3 separate regions of the Homo sapiens genome follow, and all the other regions are linked to region 1. The links come from fine-mapping of genetic effects on gene expression. A gene starts in region 1. Each other region holds a variant in brackets. All regions are shown on one strand. Distances are from middle to middle. Region 1 holds the start of S100Z (S100 calcium binding protein Z). Region 2 overlaps S100Z (S100 calcium binding protein Z). Region 3 overlaps S100Z (S100 calcium binding protein Z).

What was found.
Region 2: its variant is fine-mapped to the expression of S100Z in whole blood (TOPMed, PIP 0.90).
Region 3: its variant is fine-mapped to the expression of S100Z in whole blood (TOPMed, PIP above 0.99).

What each region holds. Positions count from the first base shown.
Region 1 is chr5:76,846,650-76,854,299 of GRCh38, reverse strand. It overlaps S100Z (S100 calcium binding protein Z), which reads right to left and starts at 4,286. Exons shown (of 5, transcript NM_130772.4): 1 at 4,145-4,286.
Region 2 is chr5:76,910,985-76,918,634 of GRCh38, reverse strand. All of the region lies in intron 4 of S100Z (S100 calcium binding protein Z), which reads right to left. Among named protein-coding and RNA genes, the nearest start is that of CRHBP, 38 kb to the left of the region's middle. The variant C/A (reference allele first, on the strand shown) is at 4,340.
Region 3 is chr5:76,920,566-76,928,215 of GRCh38, reverse strand. S100Z (S100 calcium binding protein Z) reads right to left here. Exons shown (of 5, transcript NM_130772.4): 5 at 6,566-7,499. Among named protein-coding and RNA genes, the nearest start is that of CRHBP, 29 kb to the left of the region's middle. RefSeq lists a silencer at 2,368-2,541. The variant G/A (reference allele first, on the strand shown) is at 3,152.

The DNA.
Region 1 (7,650 bases):
TTGTCCTCTGAGCCCTCCAGACTCTTCCAACCTGTGCCCGTTACCCAGTTCCAAAGTCGCTTTCACATTTTTGGGTCTCTTTACAGCAATGCCCCACTCCTTGGTACTATTTTTCTGTATTAGTCCATTCTCATACTACTATAAAGAAATACTTGAGACTAGGTAATTTACAAAGAAAAGAGGTTTAATGGGCTCACAGTTCCACAGGCCGTACAGGAAGCATAGCAGCATCTGCTTGGCTTCTGGGGAGGCCTCAGGAAACTTTCGATCATGGCAGAAGGCAAAGGGGAAGCAGGCACATCTTACATGGCCAGAGCAGGAGGAAGAAAGAAAGATCTTTCAAACAACCAGATCTCACGCTACCTCACTTACTCACTATCATGAGAACAGCACCAAGGGGATGGTGCTAACCCATTCATGAGAACTACACCTCCATAATCCAGTCACCTCCCACCAAGCCCCACTCCAACCCTGGGGATTACAATTTCTTTTTTTTTTTTTTTAAGATGGAGTCTTGCACTGTCACCCAGGCTGGAGTGCAGTGGCACTATCTCAGCTGACTGCAATCTCTGCCTCCTGGGTTCAAGCAATTATCCTGCCTCAGCCTCCCCAGTAGCTGGGACTACAGGTGTGCACCATCACACCTGGCTAATTTTTTGTGTTTTTACTAGAGACAAGGTTTCACCTTGTTGGCCAGGCTGATCTTGAACTCCTGACCTCAGATGATCTGCCTGCCTCAGCCTCCCAAAGTGCTGGGATTACAGATGGGAGCCAACACATCCGGCCTGGGGATTACAATTTGACATGAGATTTGGTGGGGATACAGATCCAAACCATATTAGCAAGTAATAGAATAAGCAAATAAAAGTAGTTCAAGCTTAATAAGGTAATTTGCTATCTCTTACTATAAAAGTTGGTTGTTTCAGTGTTTTGTCAATGCTATCAAGGGCCCAAGATCTATCTTTCTTCTTCCCTATCTTCTGTGTGCCAGCTCTCATCTCTGACTTGTCCCCGCACAGTCACAAGATGACTGCTGCAATTCCAGGCATCACATCCTCAGACCATCTATGGAGGATTATTTGGAGGGAGTCCAGGCATTTCTCTAGATTTTTCTAAAGTTTCTGAAATTAATATAGCCAGATCAGTAGAAAATTAGGTGTCTGAACTGTATCACATTGGCCCCTCCTAGAATTGTTTAAGCAGCTGTGCTTCAAGGGAAATGCTGCTTGAAGCTGCTAGAATCATCAGCCTTAGACTTGAATCGACTCTGGGATGAATGTTGTTTGAACTTTTCATTCCCTCTCTATGAAGACTCTCAGGGGAAAAATGTTGCTCTGGTTCTTGTGTTGAGAAGAGTCCTGACTTGCCTAAGCAGTCATCCCATGGATACTATGAATAGCCCAGCTGATAAGATAGGATAAGACAGATAATGTATCCTCTTTTTCTTTGGCTGCTAGAAAGCCTAGAATCAAGTTCATGAGCCACCTAGGCCGAATACTTGATTTTACCACATGCTGCAAACTCAAATACCTACAGCCGGGTCATGTTCAAACTTTGCTGTTTTTTGTTTGTTTGTTTGTTTTTTGAGACAGAGTCTCACTCTGTCACCCAGGCTGGAGTGCAGTGCAGTAGCGGGATCTCAGCTCACTGCAACCTCCGCCTCCTGGGTTTAAGCAATTCTTGTGCCTTAGCCTCCTGAGTAGCTGGGATTACAGGTGTGCACCACCATTCCTGGCTATTTTTTTGTATTTTAGTAGAGATGGGTTTTCACCATGTTGGCCAGGCTATTCTCAAACTTTGGCCTCAAGCAATCCACCCACCTCAGCTTCCCAAAGTACTGGGGTTACAGGTGTGAGCCATTACACCCAGCCCAAACTATTTAACAACAGATACAACAGAGGCACTAAGCAGAATGAAAAGCAGTTGTGAACAGGGAGCATCAGCCTGCTTCCACGGCCAGGCTGCTAGTGTAAACAGGCAAAATTGAGACTAAGAAAAAAAAAATATCTTGACTAATTTTTTTTATTACATTTGATAGAAGGGTGAGTTCAGAGAAATAGTCCATGCTGATAAGAGGACCGACACTGCTTCAGTGCCAGACAGCCAAGTGGAGTGGAGGCCAGTGGGAAATTGGAGAGCCCGTGCTCTCCCAAGAAGGCGAGACTGCTTCTCAGACCCAGATCATCGTTGCCAGATGGGATATGGCTCAGAGCTCCCAGAACTTCACTTTTTTTTTTTTTAAAAGAAAAAGTGAGAAATTTTAATTTTTAAGAATTCCTGGATTTTAAGACTGCAACTCAAGACAAACAAACAAAACCCACCAAAACCCAACAGACAAACATAAGACTGCAGGACAACTCAAACAGGAAATTCAGCGAATGCTGGCCAGCTTGTGACTTCTGCTTTCTGCTGTGTACTTTATATTTAACCTCATTCCTTCCTCTACTTTACATCTCGTTCTTTTCTGTCTGCTTTCTCTCCTACTTAATTTATAATATCTTACTCTACTTTGTGTTATCTTCATATGTCACCTTAAATCCTACCTAGGACCCAGGAGAGTATAAATAAACTGACCACAGGACATCTCCACTTAGGTAACACATCAGAGTCTCAGATTCCAAACCACAGCAAACTGATTTTGGCATTTTCCAATCCCCTGCTCCCTTCTTCCTCTACCCCAGAGGGGATCCCCTTTTTTTGCTGCTCCAGTCAACAGCAATACCCTCATTCACCCAACTGCATGGCCAGAAACCTGAGTATGATGCTATTCCTGGCCCCTCTCTCTCTCTCATGCAATCAGTTGCCAGGTTGTATCTCCTCACTCTCTGTTCCTTCCTCCTCAACCCTAGCGCCATAGTTCAGGCCCTTGTCACTTCTGGCCTGAATTACTGCATGAGATCCCAACTCACCTCCTGCACCTACTTTGCTCTTCTTCAAAATTAGCCTCCCCTGCCTGCTGGGAGGCACACCTGAGCTCCTCACTTAACCTCCTGGACAGGCCCTGCCATCCCCTGGCTAAATCTAAACTCCCCGCAGTGTGCCCACCCATCCCCTCTGCACCATCTGTGCCGCACACGTGGCACTGCCACTGTGCTGCCCATTCCTCTGCTCAGGTGCCAGTCCTCCAGGGAAGCCTCCGATGCCCCTCAGCTCCTGGGAGCACTCCGCCTCTGGGTGCCCCTGTATCACCTCATGCTTTCCTCTAGACCTGCACCGGCACTGGGTTGAAGGAAAATAATAGTAGCCAACGTTAATTAGCACATACTCTGGGCCAAGCACCCTTCTAGGCAGTTTAAATGTATTCCTTTATGTCATCCTCAAAAATCCCATGAGGAGGCTGGGGAGCGGTGGCTCATGCCTGTAATCGCAGCACTTTGGGAAGCCAAGTGGGAGGTGGAGGTTGCAGTGAGCTGAGATCACACCACTGCACTCCAGCCTGGGTGACAGAGTGAAACTCCATCTCAGAAAAAAACAAAAAACAAAAAAAACTTTATTTCTCTGTCTAACCCAAATTTTGTGTCCTCTCACCAACTTCTCCCCAGCCCCTCCATCCCTCTTCCCTCTCTTCTTCTGTAGGCTGAGAGCAGCCATTCCAGGGCTGATTGTCCAGGCATGCCCAGCACTGGCCAGTGTGAAGAGGAGGAGCATAGACCACTGCTGTGACTTCCTGGGAGTGGGCTTACACTGGCATCTGTGCAGGCTTCAGGAAAAAGAAGCGAAATCACGGCGTGGATCTAAGGGGCCAAGCCTCACCTTGAAGGTTCTTCTGGGTCTTTGGCCTGGACAAGAACATGAAACTTGAATTTCTCAAGGTGAGGTGAAGGCCAAGCAGGAAGCCAGGATGGTCACCAGGAAAGGAGCCAGAATGAACTAAGTGTTCTTTAGGGCAAGGAACTTACCAGAACCTCTACGCTCCGAGCTATGATCAGGCTGCTCTCTCCCTCTCTCTCTCTCTCTCTCTCTCCCCCACCCCCCCGACCCCTTTGTGGCCAAGGTAAGGCCACATTTTAGAGTGGAAGCCCCAAGGCAACCCCCCACCTCACAACCTCCACTCTTGTTGCCCTCTCTAATCCAACGCCTGCCAGGCTCACACTTCAACCACTAGACTGAAAAGCAAGAATCTTCCACAAAAATAATCTTTTACCTTAGACCTGCTTCCTGTGCAGATGAGATAAGGAGAATGCTCTTGTCTGAATTTCTGGGCGTGGAGATTAGCAAGCCGTTTTCCTCCCAGCAGCTAGAGCGAGCAAGAGGCCCTGCTGTGAGTAGTGCTGTTCTGAGTCTGCGTGGTCCAGACTCACCACACTGCAGGCACGTTTCTTCATCAGGTGGGAAAGCAGGAAGAGGTTTAATTTAGGACCTAAAGCTGGTATATTGCTGAGTAAAAGAAATGGGAAGGCACCAAGTCTCTAACGAAATTGCGCTGGGTGCAGTGGCTCATGCCTCTAATCCCAGCACTTTGAGAGGCTGAGGTGGGTGGATCACTTGCGGTCAGGAGTTTGAGACCAGCCTGGTCAACGTGGCGAAACCCCATCTCTACTAAAAATATAAAAATTAGCCAGGCATGGTGGCGGGCGCCTGTAATTCCAGCTACTCGTGAGGCTGAAGCAGGAGAACGCTTGAACCTGAGAGGCAGAGGTTGTAGTGAGCTGAGCTCGCCGCTGCCCTCCAGACTAGGTGACAGAGCCAGATTCCGTCTCAAAAAAACAAAAAAAAAAGAAAAAGAAACTGCTTGTGATCCAACACTCCCCCACTGGTGCCTCCTCATGGTGAAGAGCAATTACTCTGGCACCAGAGTCTTGGGGTTCAAATCCTTACTTCACCAGTATGTGACTGGAAAAGCTACCTAACCTGCCTGCTGAAGCTTCATGGCTAATAATTCCTCACAGCATTTCTTTTTTTCTTTTTTTTTTTTGAGACAGAGTCTTGCTCTGTCACCCAGGCTGGAGTGCAGTGGCATCATCTCAGCTCACTGCAACCTCCACCTCCCTGGTTCAAGCTTCTGCCTCAGCCTCCCAAGTAGCTGAGATTACAAGCGCCCACCACTAAGCCTGGCTAATTTTTGTATTTTCAGTAGAGATGGGGTTTCACCATGTTGGTGAGGCTGGTCTTGAATTCCTGACCTCAAGTGATCCGCCCACCTTGGCCTCCCAATGTGCTGGGATTATAGGCGTGAGACACTGCGCCTGGCCCAGGAGGAATAAGTTTAAGAGCTCCCATTGTACAGCATGCTATCTATAGTTAATAACAATATATCGTGTATCGAAAATTGCTAAGACAGTAGATGTTAAGTGTCTTTATCACCCCCAAAAAATGACAAGTATATGGGGCAATTAAGTCAAATAGCTTGACTTAATAATTCCACAATGTATACATAAATTAAAACATCAAGCTGTATTTGTATACCATAATATATACAATTTTTACTTGTCAATTAAATAAATAAATACACAGAAAAGGGCAGAGACAGGTCAAGAAGCACAGCACTCAGTACAGAAATACAGATAACAATATATTGAAAGAAAGAATTCAAAGATAAATTTTTTTTTTTTTTTTTTGGAGACAGAGTCTTGCTCCATTGCCTAGGGTAGAGTACAGAGACACAATCACAGCTCTCTGCAACCTCAACCTCCCAGGCTCAAGTGATCCTCCCACTTCAGCCTCCCAAATAGCTAGGACTGCAGGGTATGCCACCACAACCTGGCTAATACTTGTATTTTTTTGTAGAGATGGGGTTTCACCATGTTGCTTGCCCAGTCTAGTCTTGAACTCCTGGGCTCAAGTGATCCTCCCAGCCTGGCTTCCCAGAGTGCTGGGATTACAGGCACCAGCCACCGCACCCGGCCAAAGATATGTTCTGAAGATTGAAACGTCTCTCTTTCCAAAATAACTACTCTTGGCCAGGTATGGTGGTGTGCGCCTGTAATCCCAGCTACTCGGGAGGCTGAGGCAGGAGAATTGTTTGAATCCGGGAGGCAGAGGTTGCAGTGAGCCAAGATTGTTCCACTGCACTCCAGCCTGGGCAAGAGTGAGACTCCGTCTCAAAAAACAAACAAAACCCAAAAACCTCTTGACTGGGTGCTGTGCCTCAAGCCTGTAATCCCAGCACTTTGGGAGGCAGAGGTGGGAGGATCACTTGAGCCCAAGAGTTCAACACAGCCTGGGCAACATAGGGAGACACCATCTCTACAAATTTTTTTTTAAAAATTAGCTGGGCATGGTGGTGCACACCTGTGGTTCCAGCTACTCAGGAGGCTGGGGTTGAGAGTATCACTTCAGCCCAGGAGTTTGAGGCTGCAGTGAGCTGTGATTGCAACCACTACTCTCCAGCCTAGGTGACAGAGCCAGACCCTGTCTCTATAAAAGCATTAATTAATTAATTAATTAATTACTAGTCTTTCCCACCTGAAAGTGAAAACTAAGAAGGTCCAAACTGTAGGATTATAGAATGACGGATGTCTGGGGAGATCAGAACAAATCTGCGGAAGAAAACACATGTAATCTGTCTGCATTGCCAGTTTTGGGTGGTGATTCCTGTCCAAGTGTAGCTCCCAAGCACAAGACTGTGGTCTAGGGTCCTGTTCTTCCCTATCTTTAGGAGAACATTAAGATCACCATGAGGCAGGCACCACATAAGAGGGCACAGTGATAAGAATTTTAGCATTCCTCGTTGTTCCTGCTAAGTGCTTGTGAACAGTTGTATAACCAGAGTTCTCGATCGGCAGAGCCTTTTCATTTCCTCTAATATGCTTTCACACTTTCCAGTTCTGGATGCAATCAGCAAAATCCAGACTATGGGGAAAATCTACAAACAACCTGGTTTCTTCAACAAGTAAGTAGCAAGTGGTGAGGGTGGAGATAAATTAAGAGATTTAAAAGTCATCAACCAATTGCAATGTCTGAGCTTTATTTAGATTCTGATTTTTTAAAAAAAGAAACCACTTATGATAATTGAGATGAGTAGAAATTTGAACACTGACAGGATATCTGATATTAAGAAATTTTTTGAGGTATGATTTTTAAATTTCTTGTCTTAGACACTGAAACATTTACGAGTGAAATAATATGATTCCTGAGATTTGCTTCAGAATAAACGGGATGGGGAGGAGGATGGGGCAGAATTGACCAAAGGTTGATGGATATTGGGCCTGAGTGATGGAGACATAGAGTTTCCCTATACAATCCTAATTCTGTATGGGTATAAAATCCTCCATAATAAAGTTTTTAGGGCTGGGCGCAGTGGCTCACACCTGTAATCCCAGCACTTTGGGAGGCCGAGGTGGGCGGATCACTTGAGGTCAGGAATTCTAGAGCAGCCTGGCCAACATGGTGAAACCCAGTCTTTACCAAAAATACAAAAATTAGCCAGGCGTGGTGGTGGGCGCCTGTAATCCCAGCTACTTGGGAGGATAAGGCAGGAGAATCGCTTGAACCCAGGAGGCCGAGGTTGCAGTGAGCCAAGATGGCACCACTGCACTCCAGCCTGGGAGACAGAGCAAGATTCTCTCTCAGAAAAATACATAAATAAATAAAATAAAATAAACAAACAAACATAAAGTTTTTAGGCTGGGCACCGTGGCCTATGCCTCTAATGCCAGCACTTTGGGAGAGCGAGGTAGGTGGATCACTTGAGGTCAGGAGTTCAAGACC
Region 2 (7,650 bases), 64 kb before region 1:
ATGGGGAAGTCGGTGCACATCTGGAGGCAGGTATAACATGGGAGCACTCTGTGTATCCACTAAACTTTACATGAACCTAAAACTACTCTAAAGTCTATTTTTTCAAAAGCAAATTAAAACCCTTATTCTACTGGGCACAGTAGCTCACTCCTGTAATCCCAGCACTTTGGGAGGCCAAGACGGGAGGACTGCTTGAGCTCAGGAGTTTGAGACCAGCATGAACAACATGGCAAAACCCTGTCTCTACAAATAATGCAAATGTTAGCCAGGCATAGTGGCACGCACCTGTAGTCTCAGCTACTCAGAAGGCTGAGGTGGGAGGATCACTTGAGCCCGGGAGGCAGAAGTTGCAGCGAGCTGAGATTGTACCACTGCACTCAAGCCTGGGTGACAGAGCCAGATTCTGTCTCAAAAACAAAGTAAAAACCCTATTCTAACGACAAAAAATAAAGTTGGATAATATCTAATGTTAGTAAATGTGTGGAAAAACAACACGTGCATAGAGGTATGGAGGTACAAATTGGTATAAGGTTTTTAGATAGAAAATTGACGTTATCAATCAAAATTTTAAATACGTATACCTTTGACCACAAGTCCAATTGTAGGAATTAACCTACAGATAGATACCCTAAAGACTACACAGATATATATTTAAAGATTGTCATTGTAGAACTATTTGTAAGAGCAAAAAGCAAGAAACCAACTAGACGTCCACCTACAGGAAACTGGCACTTTGACATAAAAATATTGGGCATTGAGGTTCAATACCAATTTTGACCTTGGTATTCAATTTCTGATTTTTTTTTTTTTTTTTGAGACAGTCTTGCTCGGTCACCCAGGCTGGAGTACAGTGGTGTTATCTCGGTTTACTGCAACCTCCACTTTCTGGGTTCAAGTGATTCTTGTGCCTCAGCCTCCCTTGTAGCTGGGATTACAGGCATGTGCCACTACATCCAGCTAATTTTTGTGTTTTCAATAGAGATGGGGTTTCGCCATGTTGGCCAGGCTGGTCTCGAACCCCTGGCCTCAAGTGATCCAACCACTTCCCAAAAGTGCTGGGATTAGAGGTGTGAACCACTGTGCCAGGCCAATTTCTGATTTTTGACCCAAGCTTTCCCTCTGGAAAACCATATAGCTGAATGGCTACTTCAGTCTCTTTTCTGACATTCTTAAACTTGTGTGTGATCATGAAACTGTGTAAGTACCACCTCACACCTAGGCAGCCTAGCAATGTCAGTAATACCAACAAGGCCTGTCATTCAGAATTATTGTGACTATCTATGAATAGTATATGGAAGCATGCTACAAAAAAGTCAAACTGGAAATCTCACATTTTATGTTTTGAAGCTCTATTAAATGATTGAAATATGTATGTTAATACATAATTATAAACTTATTTTGAAACAATTATAGATTCACATGTAGTTATGAGAAATACAGACTTGAGACCTTCCTTTTTTCTTCTTTTCATACAACTTTTTGAAATATCCTTTTTTTTTTTTTTTTTTTTTGAGACAGTCTCACTCTGTCACCTAGGCTGGAGGGCAGTGGTGCAATCTCAGCTCACTGCAACCTCCGCCTCCTGGGTTCAAGCCATTCTCCTGCCTCAGCCTCCCAAGTAGCTGGGACTGCAGTCACCTGCCACCATATCCAGCTCCTTTTTGTATTTTTAGTAGAGATGGGGTTTAACTATGTTGGCCAGGCTGGTCTCGAACTCCTAACCTCACATGATCCACCTGCCTTGGCCTCACAAAGTATTGGGATTAAAGATGTGAGCCACTGCTCCCAGCCTTGAAATATCCTCTTTTCTAATGCAGGGATTTCATGCTATAACTTTGCCTCTCAAGACTTCTTTAGCAGTATCTTACAAATTTTGATATATCGTCTTTACATTTTTATTTAGTTGAATGTGTTTTTAATTTTCCTTAAGACCCTCTTTTTGACCCAAGTATTATTTACAAGTGTGTTTAGTTTGCAAGTGTTTAAAAATTTTCATGTTATCTTTCTGTTATTGGTTTCTAGTTTGTTTCCACTGTAGTCAGAAAACACACTCTTAGGATTTCAATGGGTATTAATTTTTCAAGGTTTTTTTTTTTTTTTTTGGCCTAGGACATGGTCTGTCTTGGTATATGTACTGTGGGCACATGAAAATAATGTGTGGCCTGTTGTTGAGTGTTTCACAAAAGTCAGTTCAATCCTGTTAATTGATGGTCATGTTATTTCTTCTATGTCCTTGCTGATTTTCTGTCTAGCTTTTCTATCAATTGTTGAGAGAAGGATGTTGCAGTCTTCAATTGTAATTGTGGATTTGTCTGTTTCTCTTTTCAATACTATCAGTTTTTGCTTTACATATTTTGTAGTTCTGTTATTTGGTACATATATAATTAGGATTGCTATGCCTTTGTGGTAGATTTATACTTTTATTATTAGTAATGTACTTCACCATCTCTGGTAATTTTTTTTTTTTTTTTTTTGAGATGGAGTCTCACTCTGTCTCCCAGGCTGGAGTGCAGTGGCACAATCTCGGCTCACTGCAACCTCCACCTCCTGGGTTCAAGCGATTCTCCTGCCTCAGCCTCCCAGGTAGCTGGGATTACAAGTGTGTACCTCCACGCCCAGCTAATTTTTGTATTTTTAGTAGAGACGAGGTTTCACCATGTTGGCCTGACTGGTCTTGATCCTAACCTCATGATCTGCCTGCCTTGGCCTCCGAAAGTGCTAGGGTTAGGTAATTTTGTTTGCTCTGAAGTCCACTTATCTAATGTTAACATAACATTTTAAATTAATGCTTGTGTAATTTTTTGTCCTTTTACTTTCAACATACGTTATTGTATTTGATGTGAGTTTCTTGTAGAGAACATATAATTAGGGCATGTTTTTAATCCATTATGCTAGTTACTGTATTTTAATTTTTATAGTTAAACCATTTACATTTAATGTAACTATTGATATGTTTGGGCTTAAGCCTACCACTTTATCTTTTTTATTTATTTATTTATTTTTATTTTTTATTTATTTATTTTCTTTGAGACGGAGTCTCGCTCTGTTGCCCAGGCTGGAGTGCAGTGGTGTGATCTCGGCTCATTGCAAGCTCCACCTCCCGGGTTCACGCCATTCTCCTGCCTTAGCCTCCGGAGTAGCCAGGACTACAGACGCTCACCCCCATGCCTGGCTAATTTTTTTTGTATTTTTTTTAGTGGAGAGGGGGTTTCACCATGTTGGCCAGGATGGTCTTGATCTCCTGACCTGGTGGTCTGCCCGCCTCGGCCTCCCAAAGTGCTGGGATTACAGGTGTGAGCCATCACGCCCAGCATTTTTTTTTTTTTTTTTGAGATGGAGTCTCACTCTGTCACCCAGGCTGGAGTACAGTGGCACAATCTCAGCTCACTGCAAGCTCCGCCTCCCAGGTTTACGCATTCTCCTGCCTCAGCCTCCCGAGTAGCTGGGACTACAGGTGACTGCCACCATGCTCGGCTAATGTTTTTGTATTTTCAGTAGAGACGGGGTTTCACTGTGTTAGCCAGGATGGTCTTGATCTCCTAACCTCGTGATCCACCTGCCTCGACCTCCCAAAGTGCTGGGATTGCAGGCGTGAGCCACCGTGCCCGGCCTTATGTGTCCGGAATTGATTCCTTCCAGTGGATTCTTGGTCTTGCTGACTTCAAGAACAAAGCCACAGACCCTTGCGGTGAGTGTTACAGTTCTTAAAGATGGTCCGGAGTTTGTTCCTTCAGATGTTCAGATGTATCCGGAGTTTCTTCCTTCTGGTGGGTTCGTGGTCTCGCTGACTTCAGGAGTGAAGCTTCAGACCTTCACTGTGAGGGTTACAGCTCTTAAAGGTGGTGCGTCAGGAGTTGTTTGTTCCTTCCAGTGGGTTTGTGGTCTCGCTGGCTTCAGGAGTGAAGCTGCAGACCTTCGCGGTGAGTGTTACAGCTCTTAAAGGTGGCACGTCTGGAGTTGCTTTTTCCTCCTGGTGGGTCCATGGTCTCAGTGGCTTCAGGAGTGAAGCTGCAGACCTTCACGGTAAGTGTGACAACTCATGAAGTTAGTGCGGACCCAAAGAGTGAGCAGCAGCAAGATTTATTGCGAAGAGTGAAAGAACAAAGCTTCCACAGCATGGAAGGGGACCTGAGCGGGTTGCCACTGCTGACTTGGGTGGCCAGCTTTTATTCCCTTATTTGGCCCCACCCACATCCTGCTGATTGGTCCATTTTACAGAGAGCTGATTGGTCCATTTTACAGAGTGCTGATTGGTGTGTTTACAAACCTTTTAGCTAGACACAGAGCTCTGATTGGTGCATTTACAATCCTTTAGCTAGACAGAAAATTCTCCAAGTCC[C/A]CACCCAGCCCAGAAGCCCAGCCGGCTTCACCTCTCAATCCCCCCTCTAAACAGGATGCCCCAACTGCTGTTGGGAATTTGGCCGATGACCGCTTTAGCTACTTCCTGCTGGATAAGGGCAAAGAAGGAGCCCTGCAGTTGTAATGTCCTCCAGAGGGGAACTCTTTAGGCCAGTGGAAGGGCCAGCAGGTCAGTCCAGGGGTCCTCGGTAGAAGTTGTTGGTTGAACTCATTTGGTGTTCCACTTGTAAGACCATCTGTGGCTTGATGGCCTTGATTCCAGAGGAAACAAATTTGACAAAAAGGTTAAAAATATAGGGCCCAAAGGTGAGTAACAGCAAGATGGCTGCCATGGGACCTAGAAAGGGGAGAAGCCATGTTGCCCAACTCCAGAAGTTGGTATAAGAGCTTGAAAGGTGTTGTCTGATTTCAGAAGCCTTTTCCTGTAAATGCCGGGCAGCATCTCGTACTATCCCTAACTGGTTAGTATAAAAACAGCACTCTTCCCCTAAGACGGTGCAGAGATCTCCTTTCTCAGCAGTGAGGAGGTCTACGCCTCTGCGGTTTTGGAGAGTCACTGCCGCCGAAGAGTCTATTTGGGATTGTAGAGTAAGGATAGATTTTGTTATCTCTTGCAAACTGTCTGAGAAATCCTTTGAGAGTGTGTGGTAGTAGGATAATACATGTTACACTGTTAACTTTTAGCAAACTTTAGTTGAAAATCTTGTAAGTTTGGGATTTTTTCTTTGCTGTTAATAAAACCTTGTTCAGTCCATATTAACTTAGAATTGGTATAGATAATTCCTTCCTGATTCTATAAGATGGCTCCTTCCTGATTCTGTTTGTCTGAGTGCAAACAGCTCGCAGGTTTGAGCAGACATATCATTAGGCAATTTTCCTAACTCTGATTTTACAAGAGTTTCTTTATCACTTACTGAATATCCATTGTGTCTTTTTCCCTTAATCGCCTGGGAGGAAACATCTATCTTCCTGTCCTGAAGGGAGTTCCTCCTTGGTCTGATCGGACCTTTGTATGGTAATTAGTTAAGATTTAGATCCCCTGTTAGGAAACCTGCTGGGTTAAGGATTTTTGATAGGAAGGCTATGGGTTGTCAGTGGCCTCAGTGCTTTCAGGCTACGCCCTTGTTTACACTGACAACAAGGTGGTATTGGAGTGTTATAGGGTTACAGAGAAGACCTTCAATTATCAATTATAGGTTCTAAAGTTACCTTGGCTTTTAAAGGAATAGGGTATACGTTTTTTCTTTACTACTTCCATCTCTCTTTCTTCTCTTTGACTTCTTCTTTGTCTCCTTCTGACTCCCTTTTTGTCTGTCTCTTCCTCTCTCTGACTCTCTCTGTCTCTCTGACTCCCTATTTGTCTCTGTCTCTTCTCCTCTCTCTCTCTCTCTCTGACTCCTTCTTTGTGTCTGTCTCTTCCTCTCTCTCTCTCTTTCTGTCTCTTTCTCTCTTTTCTTTCTGCTGGTCTTTCCTTGCCTCTGCCAGCCACTTATGCTGCTGTTCTCCCTTCTCCTTCCCCTTTTTGATGGCTTTGGCAGTGTAAGACTGCCACCTCCTTGAGTATTTGCACTGAGTGCAATCACTCCATGATTTCCTTGTCGTATTTTATGGGGGTTCCCCCCAGAGGTAACTCTCTTTCTTCCCATATTACAGCATGGGCATGTAGGATTAGATAAGCACATTTGCTATCCGTATACACATTTATTTTTTTTTCCTCTTTCCCAGTTCTAAGGCTCAGGTAAGCACCACTAGTTCTGCTAACTGGGCCCTTGTCCCTGGGGGAAGAGGCTTACTTTCAAGTACGGTTACATCATTAACTATGACATAACCTGCCCTTCATATCCCACTCTCCACAAATGAACTTCCATTGGTATATAGGTTAAGGTCAGGATTAGCTAAGGGGACTTCTAAGAGATCATCTCGGGTGGCATAAGTCTGGACTATAATTTGTTGGTGATCATCCTCGATTGGGTCCCCATCCTCTGGGAGAAAAGTGGCAGGGTTGAGGCCATGCACATATGTATTTGAAGCACCGGTCCCTCAAGGAGTAGCACCTGGTATCTAAGTAGGCGGATGTCTGATACCCATAAACTTCCTTTGGCACCTAGTATGCCATTTACATCATGAGTAGTCCAAACAGTGAGATCCTTTCCTTGTATTATTTTGATAGCCTCTGACACTAAGCCAACGCCGCAACTACCCTTAAACAGTGAGGCCAGCCTTTTGCTACTACATCAATTTCCTTACTTAGGTATGCCACTGGTTGTGGGGTTGTCCCACGAGTCTGAGTAAGGACTCCAAGAGCTAGCCCTGCACTCTCTGTGATGTATAAAGAGAAGTATACAGGGGCCTGGCTATCCCTCTGTATCCAGGGATCCATAGTCAGCAAAAGCCGGTGATTCCAAGGAACCCCCGCAACTGTTTTAATGTCTTAGGGTGAGGATAAGCCAGTATAGGCTGTATTTGTTCCTTGCTGAGGGCCCTGGTACCTCTGGCTAAGATCAGGCCTAGATATTTGACCTGCTATAGGCAAAGCTGGGCCTTCGATCTAGGCACCTTGTACCCTTGATTAGCTAGAAAGTTCAAGAGATCTAGAGTAGTCTGCTGGCATGAGGCTTCAGAACTGGTAGCCAAAAGTAAATTATCCACATACTGAAGGACCAGAGTGCCTGGACTTGAGAAATGGCCTAGATCTTGGACCAGTGCCTGACCAAACAGGTGAGGGCTATCCCTAAACCCTTGGGGCAAGACGGTCCACATAAGTTGAGATGTGTGGTCTGTGGGATCCTCAAAGGCAAAGAGAAACTGGGAGTCAGAGTGCAGGGGAATACAGAAGAAGGCATCCTTGAGGTCCAGAACAGTGAACCATTCTGCTTCCTCTGGTGTTTGGGAGAGCAGGCTATAGGGGTTGGGTACAACTGGATATAGAGGAATTACTGCCTTTTTGATGAGTCTAAGATCTTCCACTAGTCTCCACTGACCGTTCGGTTTTTGTACTCCTAGAATTGGGGTGTTGCAGGGACTGTTGCATTTCCTTACTAAGCCTTGAGCTTTTAAATGTTTAACAATATCCTGTAATCCTTTATGAGCTTCAGGCCTTAAGGGATATTGCCTTTGATAAGGAAAAGTGGTGGGATCTTTTAGCCTGATTTGGACTGGGTGGCCATTTTTTGACCTTCCAAATTGTCCTTCCAATGCCCAGACTTCAGGGTTGATTCCCTCCTCAAGTAGAGGACAACAAATGGGTAACTTGTTCCTCATATTCATGTAGACAATAGTTCCAGCCTTGGC
Region 3 (7,650 bases), 74 kb before region 1:
GTGGAGGACCAAAAAGCTGTAATTTATAAAGGTCTCCATTGTGTAAAAATGACAGTGAACTAGACCCTTTGTTTCAAAACAAAGGAGGCAGTACTGACTCGGGTGCTCCTAAAGGATACGTGAAATCCATATAGATGGTGAGGGCATGGGAAGTATTCTTGCCCATGTGTCTTTCAATACCTGTGTAATGCCAGCACATGCCCCACCCAAACCCCCACGTCCTCAGAGCAGAGTCTAGGCCTGTGGACAGGGAACAGCACACACACAGATGGGCTTAGAGTCAGCTGGGCTTCAGCTTGAACCTGGCTTTTCCATGTATTTGCTGCAGGATCCTGGGAAATTTGCTCAACCAGAGCCTTGGTTTCCTTATCTACGAAATGAGGATACTAACCTTTCCCTGTAGGCTTGTTGAGAAGTTTCCATGTCATAACATGGGTAAAACATGGGAATGAGGCTGGACCTAAATGAATGTTAGTCTTCACCTTCCTAACTCTCCTCTTTCTACAACTGTTGTTCATAAGCTGAAATTTAATTCCTTATTTCTTCTTTCATCAAAATGCCCTTTGAGTTTTCTTTTAAAATTTCCTGACAGCTTTCCTCAGGGGCCTAAGCCACTATTGGAAGGGTCTTTAACTTCTCCCAGCCATTGAGGTGACTGATTTTTGCAACCCAGACCGGTTGTGGCTGAGTAGTGGTGGAAGCCTAATCAGTTACCAGGAAGGGATTTAAATGCCAAGAAAATGGGTCAGCTTGATATTTTGAGACTTGGAACATCTGAATGGAGGTGAGAAAGATGAAGGACCAGCTATGTGAGGATCTGGGGCAGAGGGAGAGCACAACTTGGCATCTTCCACTGACACCTGGAACCTCAAAAAGGGGCCAGTGGACTGGAGCTTGGGGGAACATGGTATGAGTTGAAGGTGGAGAGGTAGGGCCAGATGCTGAGGGCATCAAAGCATAGGTCAGTGTGAGGCAATTGGGCTTTAGAATCCCTCTCCCCCAGAGCACAGAAAGGACCTGAGGTATTCAAACCTGACTTGTTTTAGGGCCTCCCTGAACAACAATTATTTCCACGCTTCACTTTTTGTGGGTCAGTGTCTTTGCTTTGAGTTTTGATGTCTTATGTTACTACTATTAGCGTAAGAAGGAAGTAGCAGGAACATCTTACAATCATGCACAGGCGAAAGAATCACAGACTGAATTGGGAATTGCCCTAACCATTGAATGTTAAAGACATTGTCTTAAGAGATAAAGAGTTCATAACAAAACATCCAGATGAAAAAGAAGGAAATTGAAGACAGGAAGCTGGGGGAGACAATACCTAATCCTTGTGTTTATACAGACGTTTCTAAGGCAATAAATCATGAATCAGATGGTTTGCAACTCTTCAGGGGGAATCTTTTCCTTTCTATTTTGCAAAGCTGATTCTACTGCCGCAAGCTGGAAACTGTCAATTCCTGAGAAGAGAATTTTAATCTGGGCTTCACGAGCCTGTTCTTTCTCCAGATCCCCTCTTTGCTTTCTCATCTTTCTGTTGTTCTAAAACCTGCTTGGTTCTTTTCCTGTCTTGGGCATTTAGCCTTTCTCTCAGGTCTGGGCCTTAAGCTTTATGCTTCGTTTTCTCTGGAGCTCCCTCCCCTGTTCCACAGCTCCTAACCAGGCTCTATAGGACTTTCTTGCAAATTTCACAGCAGATCCTGAGGAGCAGCCAGTCCAGGGAGGGCTCTGTTTTAGCCCCACCCACTTCCACAGCCCTCCCAGCTCCCACACTGAACTGCCACTTTCATCTTTTTTTTCCTCAAAGCCCATTACCTGAATGTTGTGGAAAACTGAACTTGTTTTTGTATTTCCTTATTGGTGAAACAAACATAAAAGTACATCTTCCTGGAGTATTATCAGCTCCATTTGGCAGGTAGGACTACAGCATCACACTGCCCCAACCCTCACGGCTACTAATCACCAACTCTAAGTTCATCACTCACCAGATTGGACAATTCTATCGCCTTAATATCTGCAGTTAGGCCAGAGTATACTCCTGGGTGAATTCTAATCATCATTCCTCAGAAAAAAAAACAAGCTTCTCCACTATCCTGTATCTAAACCATCCTCTGCTCTGCCCAGTAATTTTACCTCCCAGCTGTCCTTTGTAGCCCAGATGCCACAATGACACACACTGAATGACTTGTTTACCAACCTTTGAAACTATGTGCCCTTATATTTTTATGTATCTTTGTTTTATTTTGTTTCTTAAGATGGAGTCTCACTCTGTCACCCAGGCTGGAATGCATTGACACAATCTTGGCTCACTGCCACCTGCACCTCCTGGGTTCAAGCAATTCTCCTGCCTCAGCCTCCTGAGTAGGTGGGACTACAGGTGCACGCCACCACACCCTGCTAAAATTTGTATTTTTAGTAGAGATGGGGTTTCACCATGTTAGCCAGGGTAGTCCTAAACTCCTCACCTCAAGTGATCCGCCCCCCTCAGCCTCTTAAAGTGTTGGGATCACAGGCATGAGCCACCACGCCTGGCTTTACATACGTTTATATTAAGTGATTTCTTACTGTCAGCCACTAAGTTCTTCCTATAGCAAGCAGCATAGATTATCTAAAGAAGTTACTCAAGCGAAAATCTGTAACTTTAAAAAAAAAAAGTGCTTGTGGGAATTGAGAGCGTTAGAACAAATCATGCAATTGCAACAGAAATGAGAGTCTATAGACTCAGGAGGACAGAGAGATAAGAGCCAGGCAGGTGAACCCTGTTTCTCCTGGAGTAGAGGACTGAGTGTGAGACCTACTCTGTTTCCAGGAGGAAGTTTCCCATCCTCTTCACAAGGCGAAGCCCCGGTTATGGTTACTGCAGTGGTAGTGAGCCTATGAAATGGTCCCCAAGCATCCCTGCCTCTTGGCGTTCACACCCCCGCATACTCCCCTCCCATAGAGTGCTAGGTTAGTGTGTACGACCAATAGAACGTGTTAGAAGTGATGGCATGTCACTTCTGAGATTAGGCTATTAAAAAAACACTGTGACTTCTCTCTCCCTTCCTCTCTCTCTCTCTATCTAGCCACTCATCTTTGGGGACCCTCATATCATAAGCAGTCCTAGGGATCGGACCTTGTGGCAAGAAACTGAAGCATTCTGCCAACAACATGA[G/A]TAAGCTTGGAAGTGGTTCCTCTGGCCAATAGCTCGACAACCCAACAGCAACCTTGTAAGAGTCCCATGAGCCAGAACTCACCAGCCAAGCCACTCCTGCTTTCTGACTCTGAAAATATGTGAGATCATAAATGTATCTTTTTTTTTTTTTTGAGACAGAGTCTCGCTCTGTTGCCCAGGCTGGAGTGCCGTGGCGCCATCTTGGCTCACCGCAATCTCCACCTCCCGCGTTCAAGCGATTCTCCTACCTCAGCCTCCAGAGTGGTAGCTGGGATTACAGGTGCCTGCCACCATGCCCGGCTAATTTTTGTATTTTTAGTAGAGATGGGGTTTCACCATGTTGGCCAAGCTGGTCTCAAACTCCTGGGCTCAAGTGATCCGCCTGCCCTTGCCTCCCAAAGTGCTGACATTACAGGCTTGAGCCACCACACCCGGCCCATAAATGTATCTTTGTTAAGCTATTAAGTTTTAGGGTAATTTGTTATACAGAAGCAGGGAACTAATACTACTGCCCTTATTCCTCTAATCCAGACCTAACTTCTCCGGGGTCCTGAGGACCAGGGGTTCTCAAATTTTAAAGGGCATGCTAATCACAGGGAGAATCTTGTTAGAACGTGTAGGAGCCAAGGGAAAGCTCTTCTTCACCCTCTGAAGCTTTGCTGAAAGTGAACAGAGAATGAATAGGAAGATTAATAGGAGAAAAAGGCATATACATTTATTTAACACACATAAGCACAAGGGAATCCCAGGAGGATGATTACCTAAAAACCCAGTGAGGTCTAGATGCTTATATACTTTTCTTCACAGGGGAGGAAAGAGCAGGGAAATGTGGCAATTTATATAGTAAATGATTTTTAGGGGTAATGAATGGGCCCAATGTTCAGTTCATGGCTAGCAAATAATTCTCTTTGGGAATCAAACAGGACCAGAGAACAGTGTCTGGGCTCCAAGTGTGGTGTTTAATTATCATCTCTTCCTCTGAGATATGAGTTTTAATCTTTTCTGCTTAGCGATATTTTAGGGGAGAGGATCAAAGGCAATTGTGTTTCTCTTTGGTGGACCCAGTTTCTAGATAGATCAGGGATCTTCGGAGAACAGCCTCATCCTATGCTTTGGGAGACACAGAGAATTGGGGGGTGGGGAAGGAGGGCAGAGAGGCCTTGTGGCTGCTTCTCTAGTTCAGCATGTCAAAGTGCCATATTTTGGAGTGTCATTTCTTTGAGCCCCAACAAATCCAATTTTTAATTTGGTAATTATAGGGTAAGAGTTTCTGCATTTCCAACAAGCTTTCAGGTGCAGGCTATGCTAATGCTGCCGGTCCACAGACATTAATTAGCAAGTCTATAAAAACGGTTTGCCCATGATGGAGCTATGGTGGTGTTGTGGATTGGGCTGAATGAGGAAACCTCTCCCATCTCAAAGCAAAATCTGATTCTACACCCATGAGGGTGTAGTTGGAGGTGGAAGAGGAACCATCGTGGGTGGGAGGGTATCTTGCATTTGTCTTGGTATTGCCCTCCCACCCCTCTAGCCTGCCCTCCCCCATTGGGGTGGCATAGCACTGGGCCCACTATACTCTAAAAGTGGGCAACTAGGCATTAGATAGCTCCTAATGCAATACTGACTGCACAGCACCACCTGTGAAATACTCTTAACAGGAGTCCAACTTGACTCTAATCCAGGCTCTAGAGCTACCTTCACTGATGGAGATATAGGTGATAGAGGAAACAATTAAATAACATGGGAATAAATGGGCAAATCCAGAATATGAAGCTTTCCACAGGGCTACCTGGTTTCTACAACATAGGCATGGGGGGAAATTACAAAAGACTGCTGAGGATTGATATAGATTTAGGAGCCTTAAGAACCAAATGTAATCTGTGGGCCTTGTTTTGTTCCTGATTCAAACAAACCCAATGTAAAAAGAGATGTTTTGAGATAGTCATGGAAATTTCATTTTGAACTGCATATTAGATGATGTCACGGAATTATTAAATTATTAGGTGTGATATGGTATTGTGTTTTTTTAGAAGCCCATTTTTTTTTTTTTTACATAGGCATTGTAGGGGCAAAGGGAAAACTTCCCCTTTGTCTTCTGAAGGCTTGCTAAAACTCAGCTGACAAAAGGCAGATTATTGGGAAAAAAGGCATACAAATTTTATTAAGATGCATATATGTGCATGGGATTCATACAAAATGTGAATTCTAAGAGGGGCTAGATGGTTGCTTAAATACTCTCTTTGGCTAGGCATGGTGGCTCATGCCAGTAATCCCAGCACTTTGGGAGGCCGAGGCGGGCAGATCACGAGGTCAGGAGATCAAGACCATCCTGGCTGACACGGTGAAACCCCATCTCTACTAAAAATACAAAAAATTAGCCGGGCGTGGTAGCGGGTGCCTGTAGTCCCAGCTACTCGGGAGGCTGAGGCAGGAGAATGGCATGAACCCAGGAGGCGGAGCTTGCAGTCAGCCGATCGTGCCACTGCACTTCAGCTTGGGCAACGGAGCAAGACTCTATCTCAAAAACAAACAAACAAACAAACAACAACAAAAAAACTCTCTTTATGGGAAGAGATGTATGAACCTGGGAGGTGGGAGGGAGACATTATGGGAAGGTGATGGGCAGAACTGCACAGGAACAAAGGTCATCTTATTTTGCAGATTAAGTTTCCCAGGTAATCTCTTGAAGCTTCCTTCAGAAGAATAGAAGAAAAGTCTGTCTGGGCATGGTGATGACTTCCAACATCTTCTCTTCTCTGGTGAGTGATCTTTCCTGGTTATTTGCTGAGACCCCCTAGGGAGGGGATCCTAAGAAAAATTGCATTTCTTTTGGAAAAAAGCTTTCTTGGTTAGACAAGGAAATTCCAGAGAGAGTCTCTCCCTATGCTTGGGAGGGGGTGGAGACAAGACAAGGTTAGGGGAACCTTGATTCTGAGGCAGCTTCTAAGGCCTCTCAGCATGTCAAAGCACAGTCTTTGGGGTATCACTTTTGAGCCCTAACAGCATATCTGAACATGTAGGGATAAAATGAAATGGTACCTAGGATTTGCTTTCTTTTTTCTTTTTTTTTTTTTTTGAGACAGTCTCTCACTCTGTTGCCCAGGCTGGAGTGCGGTGGCATGATCTCAGCTCACTGCAACCTCTGCCTCCTGAGTTCAAACAATTCTCCCGCCTCAGCCTCCCAAGTAGCTGGGAATACAGGCGTGCACCGCCATGCCCAGCTAATTTTTTGTATTTTTAGTAGAGTTGGGGTTTCACCATGATGGCCAAGCTGGTTTCTAACTCCTGACCTCAAGTGATCCGCCCACCTCGACCTCCCAAAGTGCTAGGATTACAGGCGTTAGCCACTGCACCCGGCCTAGGATTCGCTTTCAAAGGAAAGAGATAGATGAAGCAAATATGACAGAAACTTGATAATTGTTGACTCTGGGTATTTATTGTAATCATTTCCTTTTAAAATCTTCAAGTAAAAGGACATCGTGGTTTTTGAATATCCAGTGTCATAATGCCATGTCTTACTTTTATTATCAGAAAATTATGAATACTTTTAAATAATCGTTAACTCTCACAAAGAAAGGAAGGAAAGAAGAATAGAAAATCGTGCCTAGTTCTATCTCTGTTACCTTCTGGGACTTTATTTCTTCATTTGTAAAATTAAGAGTCTGAATACCCATCCAAAGAGAAGGAACAAGAATTTTATTCAAGATTCAGATGTATTGACTTAAAAGCTCCCTTAGTATTATTAATAGAAAAATTAGAAATAATCTATATGCAATAGGGAATTGGAGTAAATATATTGTGATATATCAATGAAAATACTATTCAGACAAAAATAATAATACAGTTGTATATTTATTAAGCTGGAACTATATAGATAACAAAAGATATTTTTTGGTGTAATCTCATTTTTATGAACCATAGATATATAGATACATGGACCTAGGGAAAATTCGAATGAAGAAGTTAACAGTGATTATATCTGGGTAATGAGATTACATTTGATTATTTCCCCCTACAATAAACTTATATTACTTTTTTAATGAGAAATGGTAAAAGATTTTTCTTTTTTGTGGAAGTTGTGGATTTCAAGATAAAATCAGAGAATCTACTTCATACAGCTGTAGAGGCACATCACATTGGCTGAGGTTGCTGTAGACACTTCCTCACTGCTCCTTACCTAATTTATGAGCATGGGAAGGGCTCAAGCAGCTTTCTCCAAAGCCCCCAAGCCAAAGGCACTACTAAACACATTCAGTGCTATTCCAGGCAGACCCCGTCCTGAGAGCGATGATTTTCAAGGATGCTGCTTTCCACTTTATTTAGCCCTTGATTAGCATTCACGAACTTCCTGAAATCAAAGACCCACACAGTCACTTGAAATCCAGCCAATGGCTGTGTAGTATGTTTCCTGCTGATGATGGTAACATTTAAATTGGACACATTTACTATAAGTTTATCTACCACTCTGCTGTGACTATTTCTGCTCTGCATTGAGGAGA